5 linked regions of the Homo sapiens genome follow. Changing the gene in region 1 together with any one later gene gives a genetic interaction. Each region holds a gene or a part of one and is shown on either strand. Other genes may lie near its edges. The genes, in order: CCNK, NAA25, FDPS, RTF1 and LIAS.

Region 1 (3,518 bases):
CAAAAATCCCAAAGTTTGACAATTTGCTCTGTTGGCAAAGCTATAGAGAAGCAGGTGATCTTATAAGCTTCTGGTGGGAGTACAAAATGGTCCAACTGTCACAGAGAAGTTGACGATATCCAACAAAATTACACATGCATTTGCTCTTTGACCCAGGATTCCCACTGCTGGGAATCGACTCTGAAAATATTGTCCTAACTATGAAATGTCACAACTATGAAACAACATGTGCACAAGATTATTCACTGTAGTGTTATTTATAATGGCAAAACTATGAACAACCCAAACGCCCATCATCAGGGGACTGGCTGAGTAAAATATGACACATGCACACAATAGCATACCCCACAGCTATTAAAAAGAATGAGAAACATCGTTAAGTACTGGATGGAGAAATTTCCAGATCAGCAAGGTATAGGATAGTGTACACAGTATGTTAGCATCTATGTAAGAAAGGAGGGGAAAAAACAGACATCTCTTTTTTTTTTTTTTTTTGAGACGGAGTCTTGCTCTGTTGCCCAGGCTGGAGTGCCAGTGGCATGATCTCGGCTCACTGCAAGCTCCACCTCCTGGGTTTACGCCATTCTCCTGCCTCAGCCTCCCGAGTAGCTGGGACTACAGGCGCCCGCCACCACGCCTGGCTAATTTTTTTGTATTTTTAGTAGAGATGGGGTTTCGCCGTGTTAGCCGGGATGGTCTGGAGCTCCTGACCTCGTGATCCGCCTGCCTCGGCCTCCCAAAGTGCTGGAATTACAGGTGTGAGCCACCGCGCCCAGCCAGACATCTCTATTTTTTTAAAGTAATTCAAAAAATATTTACCAATAAGGAATGGGGAAAAACAGGATGGAAAAGACAGGAATGGAAACAAGACTTCTCTATGTATATATCTTTTTATACAGCTTTGCCTTTTTATGAAAGCTTTTATTTTAAACTAATTGTACGTTTACAGAAGAGCTGTAAAGATAGATGAGTTTTGTCTATACCCTTCACTTAGCTTCCCCAATGTAAACATCTTCCATAACCATGGTTCATTTATCCAAAAAAAGAAATTAACTTTGGTATAACCACTATTAACTACACATCATATTTGGGTGCAGGTGATATCAGAACAACTTACTGCTGTTAACCATGAGCTCTTGGTTAAGATGGAGTCTACCAGGTTTCTCACTGTAAATTATTATTTTTCCCTTCCTATCTTCTATTCCTTAGATGCAAGTCACGAGGTCCAGCCCACACTCAAGGGTAAAGGAATTAAGCTCTACTTTCTGGAGGCAGAGATATCAAAGAAATTGTGGACATATGTTAAAACCACCCACTAGTAAGTAAATATTTTGGGGGAAATATTTTACAATGCAAAATACTATACAAATGTCTATTTCTCCTTCAAGTTTCATCTACTAATTTTAGCATTCACCTGAGACGATTACAACTGTGGTGTTCTAATGGTGACTTTCTATTTCCTTCACTGCTTCAACATTTATTATTTGGAATCATTTTGTTAATATTTGTTTCTTCTCTCCCATTTGTTTATTTACTTTAGTACAGACATGAGTATTTTATTCTTTGGGTTATAATCCAATACTATCATTATTTATTTTGTTGCTCAAATTATTCCAATGTGGCCATTAGGTGCTCTTTCAGCTTGACTCCCTGCAGAGTACTTTTATAACTTTGATGTTTGAATCATGTAAATATTTAACATACTCATACACTTAACTAAAAATAAAAAAGCAAATCCTAAAACTCAAACCAAATGGGCAACAAAATCACACAGAAACTTACTTCCAAGTAATTTCTGATATTGTTACATGCTTAGTGAGATATATTCTAAGGACAAAAATAACTGAAAAGAATTATTTATTTGTTTATTTATTTACTTACTTACTTATTTTAGAGTCAGAGTCTTGTTCTGTCACCCAGGCTATAAGTGCAGTGGCATGATCCTAGTTCACTGCAGCATCGAACTCCTGGCCTCAAGCGATCCTCCCGCCTAGCCTCCCAAAGTGCTAGGATTATGGGTATGAGCCACAGTGGCTGGCCCCAACGAAATTTTAAAACTTCATTAGTGTACTGTTAGTAGTGTCATTAATGTTGTAATTTTCAAACACATTTTTTTTTGCATGTTGTGGAATAAAGCAAATATGTAAATGCTAATGTTGTTAGGAACCAAGATTTTCAGTGCAAAGAAAACAAATGCACACATGCAGAAAACCAAATGTTAAGAAACAAATCTGTAATGTTAAACTTTAACTGAAGATATCAAAATAAATCATGGTTAAAAAAAAATATATATATATGTATCCCATTTCTGTCCTTTTCAAGTACCAAGAAGGAATGACACTCCTAATTCTGAAATCTTAACTTTTTCAATACCAATACCCTCTAAAAGGAAGCAGGTTTCTTTCCAGTCTGGGGTTGGAGCCTGCCTGGGATGTACTCAGACTAATCAAAGCTTATCAAAAGACATAGGACTGCTGAAGGAATGATTTGCTAGGGAAAAAAAAAAAAAAGACATAGGAGCCACCATGATGGGTGCCCACTGGACTAATCCAAGGTAATTTGAATAGCAAAAAGAAAAATAACTGTGGTTGATCATAAAATAGTGAACATACAATCCAAGTGTCCATAATATTAATACATATAGAGAATAATACTTTGCTAGCACTGATAACTACTGATAATAAAATGCTACTGATAATAAATGCGACTTTGCTAGCATGGATATTAACTACTGTAAAAAAAATACAGTTGATCCTTAACAAAATGATCACACTTGACATCACTAATAGGGTGAAAACCTGACATTACATGGCTTCTGATGTGATGCAATGTGAAATAAATATCACCTACCTATGTAGTATTCTTGTCCCCCAAAAGCTTAACCTAAATTTAAGCAAACTTTTGACCGAACTTCCAGTTTACAATAAATACTGGTGGTACAAGAGTAAGTGAAAAAAGCACAACATGGAAACTATCAGTCACATCCAGAAGGTGAGACACTCTACTCAACAACTGACCCGGTCTCTTCAAAACAGTGTTATGAAAAAACATTTTGAGAGACTGTCTTAGATTTAAAAAGGCTAAAGAGGGCTACAACAAAATGCAATGTGTGAACCTTGATTAGATCCTGCTTTTTTTTTTTTTTTAAAAAAAAGAAATTTCAAACAATTTGGAAAAATTTAAGTATAAATTGTATATTAGAGGGTATTAGGGAGGGAATTACTGTCAGTTAATTTTCTTTGGGGGTAATAATGATATTGTGATTACACAGGAGAATGACTTTATTCTTAGCAGATGAAGGCTGAAGTATTTTGGGTAAAGTGTCATGATGTCTGCAACCTACTTTCAAATGGTTCAGCTAAAACACAACCACACAGTAAACATGGCAAAAAACGAACATGTGTCCACAGGTAAATAAGTTGTCATTGCACTATTCTTTCATACAATAAAAAGTTGGGGAAAAAGTCAGATGAGACTGAATAGGAGACCAGGAGGACTCCTTATCTTCATCAATCCCT
Region 2 (3,518 bases), on another chromosome or scaffold:
TACAGGCGTGAGCCACTGCGCCCAGCCTACTGCTTCATTTTTAAAATCCAACAGCCTTTCAACAAATGAAGAATTTCTTCAACTTTTGGACCTAACAAGTGATTTTAAATATGGAATGGACTTAAGCTTCTAAAACATTACTTTGTAACCTACGACTGTACCCTCTCATACACTACACCACACATTTGCAGAACAGCTTCCAGCTTCCATGTACTCTAAAATTTTCCAGATGTGAGGTTATAGACATTTTATTACGTGTACTACATTTTCTATGACAAAGACCCTATAAACACACAGTGTACACTTACCTAAACCACTGGTATCCAGCTCATAAATATCATTGACAAGATAAAAAGAGCTTATCTGGCACTGAGAACAGCCAGAATTAAAGAATCCACCCATTCTGGTAGGTACAGGACCAAGGAAAGGATACTGGAAAAAAGGGAGAAAAATAATGCTCTTTTAAATCCATCTAAATGCATACAAAATAAGAAAATCAGGTAACTAGTAGATAAAAACCTGTCTCAGCGGTTCAGCTAAAAGCCACTAATCAGCAAACTAATAACTGAATCATTACAGTAAAAACAGAACATTTATATTAATTTGTTGCTAGCTATTAAAAACTTAACACCACAAAAAGTTATTTTGCTTTCTCCCTCACTAGTCTGGATATTGAGGAAGCCTCTGCAATTCCCTCTGAGTCTAAAATATTCCTCTTTCTCCTGCAGAAGCCATAAACTGGGACAAAACAATTCCTTACTACTCACCCACCCCAAACTCCTGTTTATAAAACAGTCATAAATATAATTATTGCAACTTTGATGGTAAATATGTATTGATGGTACCTGAATATCCTTCTCAATAAATCGCTTTCCTGTCTCCAGGGTTGCCTCCAGCTGTTGAAGGAGCAAACGAAGAATATCAATCCGGGAGGATACCCCATTCTCGGCAGTCTTCTCCGAGTTCTTTGGCTCCACAGGGTGGTTGAGACTTGGAAGTCCACTTATCAGCCTCAATGTTAAGGATCGGATTCTTAACCACAAGGTCTCCTCCTCTAAGGAAAGTTTCTTATGTTCTTCAGAAACGTCCCTTAAACAGAAACATCCCCAAATTATCTAACTTATTCAATATTCAATCCATTGCTTTCAATTTTTTTTTTTTTTTTTGAGACAGAGTCTTGATCTGTCGCCCAGGCTGGAGTGCAGTGGCACTATCTCTGCTCACTGCAAGCTCTGCCTCCCAGGTTCATGCCATTCTCCTGCCTCAGCCTCCCAAGTAGCTGGGCCTACAGGCGCCTGCCACCACGCCCGGCTAATTTTTTTTTTGTATTTTTAGTAGAGACGGGTTTTCACCGTGTTAGCCAGGATGGTCTTGATCTCCTGACCTCGTGATCTGCCTGCCTTGGCCTCCCAAAATGCTGGGATTACAGGCGTCAGCTACCGCGCCTGGCCTCAAATCATTTAAAGTTAACTTTCACCAGTTAAGATGCCTTTGAAGGGTTCCAGCTTTCATTTACTAGCTGAATGACCTAAGACAAGCCAAAATGTTCTCAAACCCCATTTCACTATCAATAAAATGGGAATGATAACCTATTTAACAGGTCATTTTTGGCTGGGCACGGTGCCTCACACCTGTTATCCCAGCACTTTGGAAGGCCGAGGTGGGCAGATCACGAGGTCAGGAGATCGAGATCATCCTGACTAATACGGTGAAACCCCGTCTCTACTAAAAATACAAAAAATTAGCCGGGCGTGGTGGTGGGCGCCTGTAGTCCCAGCTACTCAGGAGGCTGAGACAGGAGAATGGCATGAACCAGGGAGGCGGAGCTTGCAGTGAGCCAAGATTGCACCACTGCACTCCAGCCTGGGCGACAGAGCAAGACTCCATCTCAAAACAAAACAAAACAAAACAAAACAAAAAAAACAGGTCATTTTCCTTATAAGTGACACTTTGTTCTCTGATTATAAAAATAATACATGAGGACAGGTGTGGTGGCTCACACCTGTAATCCCAGCACTTTGGGAAGCTGAGGTGAGAGACTGCTTGAGGCCAGGAGTTGGAGAACAGCCTGGTAAACATAGCAAGACCCAGTCTCTAAAAAAAAAAAAAAAAAAATACAAAAAATTGGCTGGACGTGGTGGCACACACCTGTAGTCCCAGCTACTAGGGAGGCTGAGATTGGAGGATTGCTTGAGCCCAGGAGTTCAAGGCTGCAGTGAGATATGGTCACGCCACTGTACTCCAGCCTGGGTAAGATCCTGTCTCTAATAAAAATAATACACAACATAAAAAATGCAAATGATAGAAAAATGTAAAACGTAGAAAAGGTGCCCTGATAACCAATACTCACAGTATTATCAAGTTTGGTATAGATCTTTTTAGACTTTTGTAATGTGGATGTATAAAAGTCTAACTAAAAATAGCGGGTGTGGCCCGGTGCAGTGGCTAACGCCTGTAATCCCAGCACTTCGGGAGGCCGAGGCAGGCAGATCATGAGGTCAGGAGATCGAGACCATCCTGGCTAACACAGTAAAATCCCATCTCTATTAAAAATACAAAAAAAATTAGCCGGCCGTGGTGGCACACGCCTGTAGTCCCAGCTGAGGCTAAGGCAGGAGAATTGCTTGAACCCGGGAGGCGGAGGTTGCAGTGAGCCGAGATTGCGCCACCGCACTCCAGCCTGGACGACAGAGTGAGACTCCATCACAAAAAAAAAAAAAAAAAAAAAATAGGGGCTGGTTGCGATAGCTCACACCTATAATCACAGCACTTTGAGTGGCCCAGATGGGGGGATCAACAGAGGTCATGAGTTTGAGATCAGCCTGGCCAACATGGCAAAACCCCATCTCTACTAAAAATACAAAAATTAGCCGGGCGTGGTGGCAGGGACCTGTAATCCCAGCTACTTGGGAGGCTGAGGCAGGAGAATCCCTTGAACCCAGGAGGTGGGGGTTGCAGTGAGCCGAGATCATGCGACTGCACTCTAGCCTGGGCGACAGAGACAGACTAGGTCTCAAAAATAAAAAGTAACTAAAAATAATACTTACACAACTTAACAATTTTAAACAAATTGGTTACAGTATGCAACAGAGGCTCCATCTAAAAAAAAAAGTAACTAAAAATAGTATGTATGCAACTTAAGTTTAAACAAATTGGTTACAGTAATTACATTATTTTGCAAACTTCATCTTTTTATGACAGTATGTGTAGAAAAGAGTTAACATAGCAGGCCTGCAGCTATTATCGTTAGAAAGGCCTACTTGCAAGGTTGGCCCTTGGCTGATGTCTGGGAACTTTGCACTCCAACTGTTCCCTAAAATGGTAAGAGTGACTCGCTGTGCCTAGATTGTTTATATAAACCATGTTGTTTATGGTGAATACCTGCTTTCTTTCCACTCAGGATAGACAGAGTGTACCCACATAACAATGAAACCTTAAGCACCAAGTCTCTACTGGGTTTCCCTGAGCAGGAACATTCCACCTGTGTTACTGCATTTTTCCCTGCTGGAGAAAGGAGC
Region 3 (3,518 bases), on another chromosome or scaffold:
AGATTTGTACCTGAGTAAGGGGAGAAGAGAAACTCCTCAGGAGGGCAATGCACATCCTGAGCCCTCCCTCGCTGTCCAGACATGGTTCGCGCTGTCCCTCACCTCCCCTCACCTCTTTTCAGTGAATCTGACAAGATCCACATTGCCCTGGGGGGCTGTGAGGAGGTCCAGGGTCTGCCCAATCTCAGTCTGATAGGAACTCTAAGCAAGACAAAGACGGTCCATGAGCCAGGCTTTCTCCAGATATGCGAAACCCTGGTATCCCAAGCCCAACATCCCATACCAGCTGACAACTGGGCAGAATCAGAAAGGCAACAGAAGGGGAGAAAGCCCCAAAACTTAAGGCCCATATTCATACACACAGTCCTTTATCACCCTTTCTTCCAATTACACAGGACAGAGAAGCCCTTTCTTGCCACTACCACAACCCCACTTCCCAACACCCTTCCTCGCTTTCTTTCCCTTCCAGGCACGCTGCAATCCTGTACCCTGAAACCAGCTAGATGAGCATGTCCTATAGAGGCCAAGGCTACCATGGGCACCCTCTGGGCATCGGGCCCTGTCTGCAATACACCTGCAGGAAGAGCTCGATCAGGTTCAGGTAATAGGGCTGCTCCCGGCAATAGAGCTTCAGCAGGCGGTAGATACATGCTTCCAGGAGGTTAGCATCATTGATGGCATCCAAACCCACGCCCGGCTGTCATGACAGACAGAAAAACAAGCAATCAATCTCTAGTCTCGGTTCATACTAAGAGCCATCACCCCAACACCTCAACCAGGCCATATATAACCACCTCCCTGTGGCCTGTCCCCATACCCACTGCTATTTTCCTGCCCACATTACCTTCTGATACCAGCAGATCTGTCCCCGGCGGGTAAGGGATGAATCCATGATGTCATCTGCCACCAGGAAGAAAGCTTGCAGCTAGAAAGAGTGGAATAAGACCTGCAGGGCTCCTCATTACTGTTCCTTCTATCAGCAACAGAGCTGCTACTTTATATCTGTATATAGTTTTGCTTTTTTTTGGTAGGGGACAGAGTCTCACTATTATCCAGTGCAGTGGTGCAGTCACAGCTCACTGTAGCCTCTAACTCCCAGGCTCAAGTGATCCTCCCACTTCAGCTTCCTGAGTTCCTGAGACCATAGGCACATACCCCATGCCTGGCTATTTTTTTTTTTTAATTTATTTTTTGTAGAGACAGGGTCCCACTATGTTGCTCAGGCTGGTTTTGAACCCCTGGGTTCAAATGATCCTCCTGCCTCAGCCTCCCAAATTACTGGGATTACAGGCATGAGGCATCACAGCCGGCCAGAGCTGCTGCCTTTGACAGTCCCTATGAGCTGGGAAAGTCAGGATGGGGAGACAGAAGACTTCTGTGCTATGGAGACTTGGAAAGTGACATAACATGTTTGGCTCAGACTCCCCGCCTATAAAATGGAACTAAAACACTCTTGTTTTAGGTTAAGAAACTAGAACAGATCTTTGACATCTCTAATGAGCCCTAGATTATTCCTGGTGTCAGGGAGATTAGGAAACACCTTCATATACCGTACTCTATTCTTGCCAAAAACCTCAATGAATGCTTAAAGTAAGATCTATTCATGAAACTGACTTCACATTACTTCCTAAATAAAAGAAGGCTATTCCCACATTGCCCCCAGCACTGTGTTTGAACACCCTGGTGACTAGGAACACAGCCTTACCTAAAGCAGCTCCTTAGCAGTGCAGGTCTAATAAGGTGGAACTGAAATCTGACTTTGACCTATGAGTCTCAGACATCTTTAAACATCTTTAAACATTAACTAAGGGCTTACTCTTCTGAGTGCCCATCTGAAGGTACCTGAACGTGTCGGGTTTCCCACTAGACCATGATCTCCTTGGAAGCAGGGACAGTAACTTCCCCCTCTTAGCATTTGCAGAGCCTAGCACAGCATTAGGCCTGGAGTGAGAGTTTCCTAAACACTTGTCTGACAAAGAAATTAATAAAACACTCTAACATTCCCTGTGATACTTCTTGCAGTCAGTCAAACTATGTTTTGGTTCCTTAAATAGCTTTTCTTTTTTTTTTTTTTTGAGATAGAGTCTCACTCTATCACCCAAGCTGGAGTGCAGTGGCGCCATGTGGGTTCACTGTAACCTCCGCCTCCCAAATTCAAGCGATTCTCCTGCCTCAGCCTCCCAAGTAGCTGGGACTACAGGCACCTGCCACCACCAACTGCTAGGCCAGCTAATTTTTGTATTTTCATTCAGTAGAGACTGGGTTTTGCCATGTTGGCCAGGCTGGTCTTGAACTCCTGACCTCAAGTGATCCGCCTGCCTCGGCCTCCCAAAGTGCTGGGATTACAGGCGTGAGCCATCGTGTCTGACCATTAAATAGCTTTTCAAGACATGGTTTGGGTTGCTTTTTTAAAGAGACAAGGGTCTTGTCATGTTGCCCAAGTTGGACTTGAACTCCTGGGCTCAAGTGATCCTCCTGTCTCAACTCTTGAGAATCTAGGGATATAGGCACACACCAGCGCACCCAGCTCAAGACATGGTTTTTATTTTCATAACTTATTTCCTTTTTTTGTTTTTCCACTTCTAGATACATACCCAGGTTTTTGTTTTTGAGATGGAGTTTCACTCTCATTGTCCAGGCTGGAGTGCAATGGCGCAATCTCGGCTCACTGCAACCTCCGCCTCCCGGGTTCACGCGATTCTCCTGCCTCAGCCTCCCAAGTAGCTGGGATTACAGGCACGTGCCATCACACCCGGCTAATTTTTGTGTTTTTAGTAGAGACAAGGTTTCACCATGTTGGTCAGGCTGGTCTCGAACTCCTGACCTCACGTGATCCATCCACCTTGGCCTCCCAAAGTGCTGGGATTTTAAGTGTGAGCCAATGCACCCGGCCCTATACCCAGGTTTTAATTTTTATTATTATTTTCTTTTGAGACAGGATCTCACTCTGTCACCCAGGCTTGAGCAGAAGACATGGTTTGTGTGTTTTTTTTTTTTTGAGATGGAGTTTCGCTCTTGTTGCCCAGGCTGGAGTGCAATAGCGCGATCTTGGCTCACTGCAACCTCCGCCTCCCGGGTTCAAGCGATTTTCCTGCCTCAGCCTCCTGAGTAGCTGGGATTATAGGCATGTGCCTCCACGCCTGGCTAATTTTTTTTTTGTTTTTTGTTTTTTGTTTTTTTTTGAGACAGAGTCTCGCTCTTGTTGCCCAGGCTGGAGTGCAGTGGCACAATCTCAGCTCACTGCAAGCTCCGCCTCCCAGGTTCACGCCATTCTCCTACCTCAGCCTCCCAAATAGCTGGGACTACAGGCGCCTGCCACCATGCCCGGCTAATATTTTTTTTGTATTCTTAGTAGAGACGGGGTTTCACCATGTTAGCCAGGATGGTCTCGATCTCCTGACTTCATGATCCGCCCGCCTCAGCCTCCCAAAGTGCTGGGATTACAGGCATGAGCCACTGCGCCCAGCCTAATTTTGTATTTTCAGTAGAGATGGGGTTTCCCCATGTTGGTCAGGCTG
Region 4 (3,518 bases), on another chromosome or scaffold:
TGAGGTCGGGAGTTTGAGACCAGACTGACCAACATGGAGAAACCCCATCTCTAATAAAAATGTAAAATTAGCCGGGAGTGGTGGCGCGTGCCTGTCATCCCAGCTACTCGGGAGGCTAAGGCAGGAGAATCACTTGAACCTAGAGGCGGAGGCTACAGTGAGCCCAGCGTGCCATTGCTCTCCAGCCTGGGTGACAGAGCAAGACTCCATCTTGGGTGGGGGCTGGGTGGGGAGGGAGCTCCCATGGGACTCACTCTTTGAAAAGAGTGAAATTAACAAGCGAATTACATCAAGCTAGATGCAACATGACACAAATTAAAGTTTTCACAAATTAACACTGACACTTCTCACAAACTCTTCCTACACTTCAAAATTTGCCTCTGATTAATGCGGAAAACACTACATTAACAAGAAGCACAACTTTTAAATTTCTCAAGATTTATGGGGAAGGTTTATAGAAGTATACTTTATAATAATAATATTCTTTACATGTAGTATCTAAAAACAGCTCCTAGAAAATACTTACAGGGCTGGCCGGGCACGGTGGTTCACGCCTGTAATCCCAACACTTTGGGAGGCCGAGGAGGGTGGATCACGAGGTCAGGAGTTCAAGACCAGCCTGGCCAAGATGGTGAAACCCCGTCTCTACTAAAAATACAAAAATTAGCTGGACGTGGTGGCGTGCGCCTGTAATCCAAGCTACTCGGAAGGCTGAGGCAGAGAATTGTTTGAACCCGGGAGGCGGAGGCTGCAGGAGCCAAGATCGCGCCACTGCACTCCAGCCTGGGTGACAGAGCGAGACTCCGTCTCAAAAAAAAGAAAAAAGAAAATACTTAGGGGGGCCTATTCTCTCAAAGACAAATTTAATTATTGCTACTTCAAGTTAGATAAACAGAGAAAAACAGGACATGACAATATAATCTCCATTTTAAATAAGAAACCTATAAAATAAAGCATCCCAGTGTGCACATAGCTCAATTTTTAGTTTTTTAGAAAGGTAGAGTAAAATTTTTATAAATACGGAGTTGTACTGATTTGAATTGAGAACTCTGGTTCCTTTATTATCTTGAATGCTTTTCATTTTATAGGACTTACTGCATAAATATTATTCCATAAAGGGAGATGACATAGAGCCCAGAGGTTTGCCTCAAATTATTATTTCCCAATAGGCACCAACAGCAAGTATCTTGAAATTTAAAAATGTTGAAGAAAGGGTGTGGTCAAAATAAGGACAGAGTCACTATCAGGTCAAATGCTAAAAGAAAAGCTTTCAAACTCTCAAACTAGGTCTTAGTTTTAAAAACTTTCAAAGGTTAAAATAAGGCCAGGTGCTGGATCACCTGAGGCCAGGAGTTAGAGACCAGTCTGGCCAACATAGCGTCTCTACTGAAAATACAAAAAATTAGCCAGGTGTGGTGGCAGGCGCCTGTAATCTCAGCTACCCAGGAGGCTGAGGCAGGAGAATTGCTTGAACCCAGGAGGTGGAAGGTGCAGTGAGTCGAGATCGTGCTATTGTACTCCAGTCTGGGCGATAGAGTGAGACTCCATCTCAAAAATAAATAAATAAACAAACAAACAAATAAATAAATAAGGCCTGGTGTGGCAGCTCACACCTGTAATTCCAGCACTTTGGGAGGCCAAAGCCTGAGAATCACCCAAGCCCAGGAGTTTCAGACTAGCCTAGGCAATGTAGTGGGACCCCCATCTCTACAAATGATTTTAAAAATTAGCTGGGTGTGGTGGTGCACACCTGTAGTCCCAGCTACTTGAGAGGCTGAGGGGGAAGGATCACTGAGCTAGGGAGGTCAACGCTACAGCCGTGAGCTGTAATTGTGCCACTGCACTCCAGCCTGGGTGACAGGAGTGAAACCCTGCCTAAAAAAAAAAAAAAAAAGAACCAGTAGTTTTGCCATCTTAAAACCTCCCTGTCAAGTTCTTTTAGTTATACAAGTGCCTTTTTTTTTTTTTTCTTTGGGACAGGGTCTCACTCTGTTACCTGGGCTGAAGAGAAACGGTGGGACCACAAGTAACTGCAACTTCAACCTCCCAGGCTCAAGCAATCCTCCCACCCCAGACTCCCAAGTAGCTGAGACTAGAGGCACGCCACCATGCCCAGCTAATTTTTAAATTCTTTTTTTTTTTTTTTTAATACAGAGTTTCACTCTTGTTTCCCAGGCTGGAGTGCAATGGCACGATCTCGGCTCACCACAGCCTCCACCTCCTGGGTTCAAGTGATTCTCCTGCCTCAGCCTTCTGAGTAACTGGGATTACAGGCAAGCACCACCATGCCTGGCTAATTTTGTATTTTTAGTAGAGACGAGGTTTCTCCATGTTGGTCAGGCTGGTCTCAAACTCCCAACCTCAGGTGATCCGCCCACCTCGGCCTCCCAAAGTGCTGGGATTACAGGTATGAGCCACTGCACCTGGCCAATTTTTAAAGTCTTTGTACAGATGAGGTCTCACTTTGTTGCCTACGCTGATCTCAAACACCTGGGCTCAAGTGTTCCTCCCACTTTGGCCTCCCAAAGTGCTGAGATTACAGGGCATGAGCCACCATGCCCAGCCTATACATGTACGCTTAATTTGGAAGTACTATGGCAGACACAGGAAGCTATTTCTCTTCTAAATACTTATAGTGTGTTACTAAAAAGATTAACCTGCATATAGGCAGTGATCTTAATCACTAACATAAATCATAATTACTTGAGCTATACCTGTTACAAATGCAGAGTCCAGACCTCTATCCCCTGAGAGTCTGATTCAGTAGGTCTAGGATGGGAACTGCTGCACCCTCTAAGTCCCAACCTACATTTTAAATAAGCAACCCAGGTGGCTTCTGACACAGAGGTCTGCCCCTACCACCAGGAAAAACCAGCCTAGAAGGCCCATATATCTCACCTTCAGTAAGGAATAAATTGGAGGTAAAATTTTTGACATAATGGCTCAGATTCCCATCTGAAAAACCCAGGGACAAAAGGCCTCCTTACGAACTGCATTCCAATCCACACTAGATACTCAGTGATCTGTCATGGTTTGTTCCTTCCACAAGTACCATACGCTAGACAGCAAGTCTAATGTTATACCCCCAGTGAAGACTCAGAACCAGATGGAGCAGCACAAGGTATTTGGGGCAGGAAAGATCCAGAATGCATTAGGATTCCTAAAGACCCCCAAGCAGCACTGACAGTGAACTTGTGCTAAAGGTCTTTCGTGAAAATGTCTAGAGGGCAGAGATCTTCCTCTTTGATTATTCTGAGAGTCTGGCATAGTGCTGAACAGACAAACTGAAGGCATCAATACCCCTGTTAGGATGTGCAGGGAAAGGGAATTTTGATCTAGTTCCCATCTGATAACAAGAATGCAAATAAGAAGCTGAAGGGGAGGAAGTTAAATTTGTTGTTAAAATGTATTAGGTATTACACATTTTATGTTAATTTCCTTTTACAAATAGATATTTAGAATTGGATTTAAAATTGCAATTCCGGCCAAGCACGGTGGCTCATGCCTGTAATCCCAGC
Region 5 (3,518 bases), on another chromosome or scaffold:
TAGTGGTTCTATCCTTCACATGTATTTTTAGCTTGCCAGCAGTGCTGCTTGAAGACTAAATCACTTACAATTACTGGTTTTCAAAGTCCCCACATTCTGTCACTCAGTGCTGAATCAAATTCTTGGGTTTTCAAACTATGATGAGCTACTAGTTCATTAAAATGTTTTAAATTACTATTTTTATTTATTTATTTTTGAGACGGGGTCTCATTCTGTCACCCAGGCTGGAGTGCAGTGGCACGATCACAGCTCACTGCAGCCTCAACCTCCTGGGCTCAGGTGATCCTCCCACCTCAACCTCCTGGGTAGCTAGAACTAGAGGTGCCCACCACCACCCAGCAACTCAGCCACCCAGCTAATTTTTGTATTTTTGTAGAGATGGGGTTTTGCCATGTTGCCCAGGCTGGTCTTGAACTCCTGGGCTCAAGTGATCCACCCGCCTCGGCCTCCCAAAGTGCTAGGAGTACAGGCGTGAGCCACTGCACCCGGCCTTAAATGTCTTTATAGGAACTAGGAACATACAGAATATTACTAATACTGGAGCATTAATTTTTTCAAATAGAATTTGTCTAATTTAAACATATTTAAGATTTAGACCCCAATATATAAAGCAATCATTTAAAACATCACCACTTTAGATAAAAAAAAAAAATACCTAGTTTATTTATTTATTTACTTATTTATTTATTTTTGAGACAGAGTCTTGCTCTGTTGCCCAGACTGGAGTGCAGTGGCATGATCTTGGCTCACCACAACCTCTGTCTCTCGGGTTCAAGCAATTTTCCTGCCTCAGCCTCCCAAGTAGCTGGGACTACAGGCACACACCACCATGCCCGGCTAATTTTTGTATATATATTTTTTCTTTTGGAGACAGAGTGTTGCTCTTTCGCCAGGCTGGAGTGGAGTGGCAGGATCTTGGCTCACTGCAACCTCTGCCTCCCAGGTTCAAGCTATTCTCTTGCCTCAGCCTCCCGAGTAGCTGGGACTACAGGTGCGCAGCACCATGCCCAGCTAATTTTTGTATTTTTAGTAGAGATGGGGTTTCACCATGTTGGCCAGGATGATCTCAATCTCTTGACCTTGTGATCTGCCCACCTCGGCCTCCCAAAGTGTTGGGATTTCAGGCATTAGCCACCACGCCTGGCCAATACCTAGTTTATTTTTAAAGAGACAAGGTCAGCCGGGTGCGGTGGCTCACACCTGTAATCCCAGCACTTTGGGAGGCCCAGGTGGGCGGATCACAAGGTCAGGAGATCGAGGTCATCCTGGCTAACACGGTGAAACCCCGTCTCTACTAAAAATACAAAAAATTAGCCAGGCGTGGTGGCGGGCACCTGTAGTCCCAGCTACTCAGGAGGCTGAGGCAGGAGAATGCCGTGAACCTGAGAGGCAGAGGTTGCAGTGAGTCAAGATTGTGCCACTGCACTCCAGCCTGGGCGATGGAGAGAGACTGCATCTAAAAAAAAAATAATAATAATAAAATAAAAAATAAAGAGATGAGATCTCACAATGTTGCTCAGGCTGTATTTGAACTCCTGGGCCCATGCGATCCTCCTGCCTCGGTCTCCCAAGAAGTTGGGACTATAGGCACACACCACCACACCTGGCCTAGCTGTTTCTTTTTTTTATTTTATTTTTGAGACACAGTGTCTTGCTCTGTCACCCAGGCTGGAGCTGTAGTGACACGATCATAGCTCACTGCATCCTTGAACTCCTAGGCTCAAGTAATCCAACTGCCTTCCAAAGTGCTGGGATTACAGGCATGAGCCACCTTGCCTGGCCTATTTATTCTTTTTTTTTTTTTTTTTTTGAGACAGAGTCTTGCTCTGTTGCCCAGGCTGGAGTGCAGTGGCACAATCTCGGCTCACTGCAAGCTCGGCCTCCTGGGTTCATGCCATTCTGCTGCCTCAGCCTCCCGAGTAGCTGGGACTGCAGGTGCCCGCCACCATGCCCGGCTAATTTTTTTGTATTTTTAGTGGAGAGGGTTTCACCGTGTTAGCCAGGATGGTCTCGATCTCCTGACCTCGTGATTTGCCCGCCTCAGCCTCCCAAAGTGCTGGGATTACAGGTGTGAGCCACCCCACCTGGCCAGCCAATTTATTCTTAATCATTATAATTGTTAAGTCCAACTGACAGGGACATCATAAACACTTTCTAGATTAAATTCGGTCTTCAGATATGTTCTTTTGGATCCTCCGACAATCATTATCACATGACTTTTTATCCCTTGGAAAATGATTTTCTTTTCATAAATCAATTCAAGCTATTGATTAAAATAAGAGCTGAAATTCCAAAAGTAAAAAAAATTTGCATTGTAGCTAGTAAAACAACTAAACGTTCCTACGGAGAAAAATAATCTTATGGATATTTTTCTGTTGCCTCTGGGGGAAAAATACAAAGAAATTTAATGATGCAAGCAATGCTATCAAATAAGATACTTTTCAGTGCTTAAACTGATTGAAACTGAGTCTGGAGATGCAGCTGGCATCATTTCCAAATAAATATGTATTTCTCAGAAAACCCTATTAGATGCTTGACATGCTCTGTCATTTCTGAATAACCTACTACTGAAATCTACACATAGAAAAAATTAATAAACTAATTGTTTCTGCTTTTACTATAGTAGCTGAGTTACAAAGCAGGGGGCTGAATTTGTTTAAGAAACAAAAGATTAAGAGAAACTTTTCTTAATATGATCCCCATGGAGCAAAGCTCCTAAGGATGTTCCAGAAGAAAAACTACGCCCTCTACCAAGACCACCAAAGGTATTAGAATTTGTCAAGAGTTTTAGTGACTGGTGGTAGAACTTAATGTGGAAAGTTAACGGCCTAAATGAAACCATGCCCCACAATCTAACTTACCTGCTTTATATGAAGAACGCACCAAAGGGCCACTTGCAGTATAATGAAATCCAAGTTCATTTCCTACTTTTTCCCAGTATTTGAATTTTTCAGGAGTAATATATTCTTCAACCTAGATTTAAATAATTACTTCTGATCAGATTTTAGAATTCCACTTTGATTCTGCAGAAAGTCTATACCTATGTATGCAGAATGCTCTTCACTGCGTAATTTATCTTGCCCCCACCCCCAGGCTTTTGTCCTCTCCCTCCTCCCTGACTACGTGTTTACTGGTTACTTTTTGGCCACTCTATTGGGATGTAAATACAGGGAATTACAGAGACAGGGAAGCATATCAATTTTGTGCTACAATGGCTATTCCAAAGGACAGAGAAAGAAGAGATTATCTACAGATATTATTTATCTATATTTTTCCTTCGTTAACAGCTAAATTCAAGAATTACTCATGCTTATCTGATTCTTGAGGACAAGACTGTCTTACTCAACTTGTATCTTCTGCTTAGCACTGTGACTGGCACATGGTCACTGCTCAACACAAGCTTCTTGAATGAATGGATAAATGTCCATGATAGAAATAGAAAGAATGGTTTCCCATTCTTTCTTCGCCTCTGGCTCTAACATAACAAAAACAAGTTACACAATAACCAAGTGTAAATG

The links.
Region 2: changes in CCNK (region 1) and NAA25 together harm fitness less than expected from each alone (positive genetic interaction), as found in Homo sapiens cells (one large-scale study listed by BioGRID).
Region 3: changes in CCNK (region 1) and FDPS together harm fitness more than expected from each alone (negative genetic interaction), as found in Homo sapiens cells (one large-scale study listed by BioGRID).
Region 4: changes in CCNK (region 1) and RTF1 together harm fitness less than expected from each alone (positive genetic interaction), as found in Homo sapiens cells (one large-scale study listed by BioGRID).
Region 5: changes in CCNK (region 1) and LIAS together harm fitness less than expected from each alone (positive genetic interaction), as found in Homo sapiens cells (one large-scale study listed by BioGRID).

What each region holds. Positions count from the first base shown.
Region 1 is NC_000014.9:99,487,906-99,491,423, reverse strand, and holds part of CCNK (cyclin-K), read right to left. Parts: intron 1-3,518. UniProt on the Homo sapiens protein: Regulatory subunit of cyclin-dependent kinases that mediates activation of target kinases.
Region 2 is NC_000012.12:112,042,780-112,046,297, forward strand, and holds part of NAA25 (N-alpha-acetyltransferase 25, NatB auxiliary subunit), read right to left. Parts: exon of another isoform or gene 1,874-3,518; intron 1,090-1,873; coding exon 846-1,089; intron 433-845; coding exon 309-432; intron 1-308. UniProt on the Homo sapiens protein: Non-catalytic subunit of the NatB complex which catalyzes acetylation of the N-terminal methionine residues of peptides beginning with Met-Asp, Met-Glu, Met-Asn and Met-Gln. May play a role in normal cell-cycle progression.
Region 3 is NC_000001.11:155,315,348-155,318,865, reverse strand, and holds part of FDPS (farnesyl pyrophosphate synthase), read right to left. Parts: intron 2,013-3,518; exon of another isoform or gene 926-2,012; coding exon 845-925; intron 698-844; coding exon 575-697; exon of another isoform or gene 470-574; intron 202-469; coding exon 113-201; intron 11-112; coding exon 1-10. UniProt on the Homo sapiens protein: Key enzyme in isoprenoid biosynthesis which catalyzes the formation of farnesyl diphosphate (FPP), a precursor for several classes of essential metabolites including sterols, dolichols, carotenoids, and ubiquinones.
Region 4 is NC_000015.10:41,420,086-41,423,603, reverse strand, and holds part of RTF1 (RNA polymerase-associated protein RTF1 homolog), read right to left. Parts: intron 1-3,518. UniProt on the Homo sapiens protein: Component of the PAF1 complex (PAF1C) which has multiple functions during transcription by RNA polymerase II and is implicated in regulation of development and maintenance of embryonic stem cell pluripotency.
Region 5 is NC_000004.12:39,472,555-39,476,072, reverse strand, and holds part of LIAS (lipoyl synthase, mitochondrial isoform 1 precursor), read right to left. Parts: intron 2,974-3,518; coding exon 2,862-2,973; intron 1-2,861. UniProt on the Homo sapiens protein: Catalyzes the radical-mediated insertion of two sulfur atoms into the C-6 and C-8 positions of the octanoyl moiety bound to the lipoyl domains of lipoate-dependent enzymes, thereby converting the octanoylated domains into lipoylated derivatives.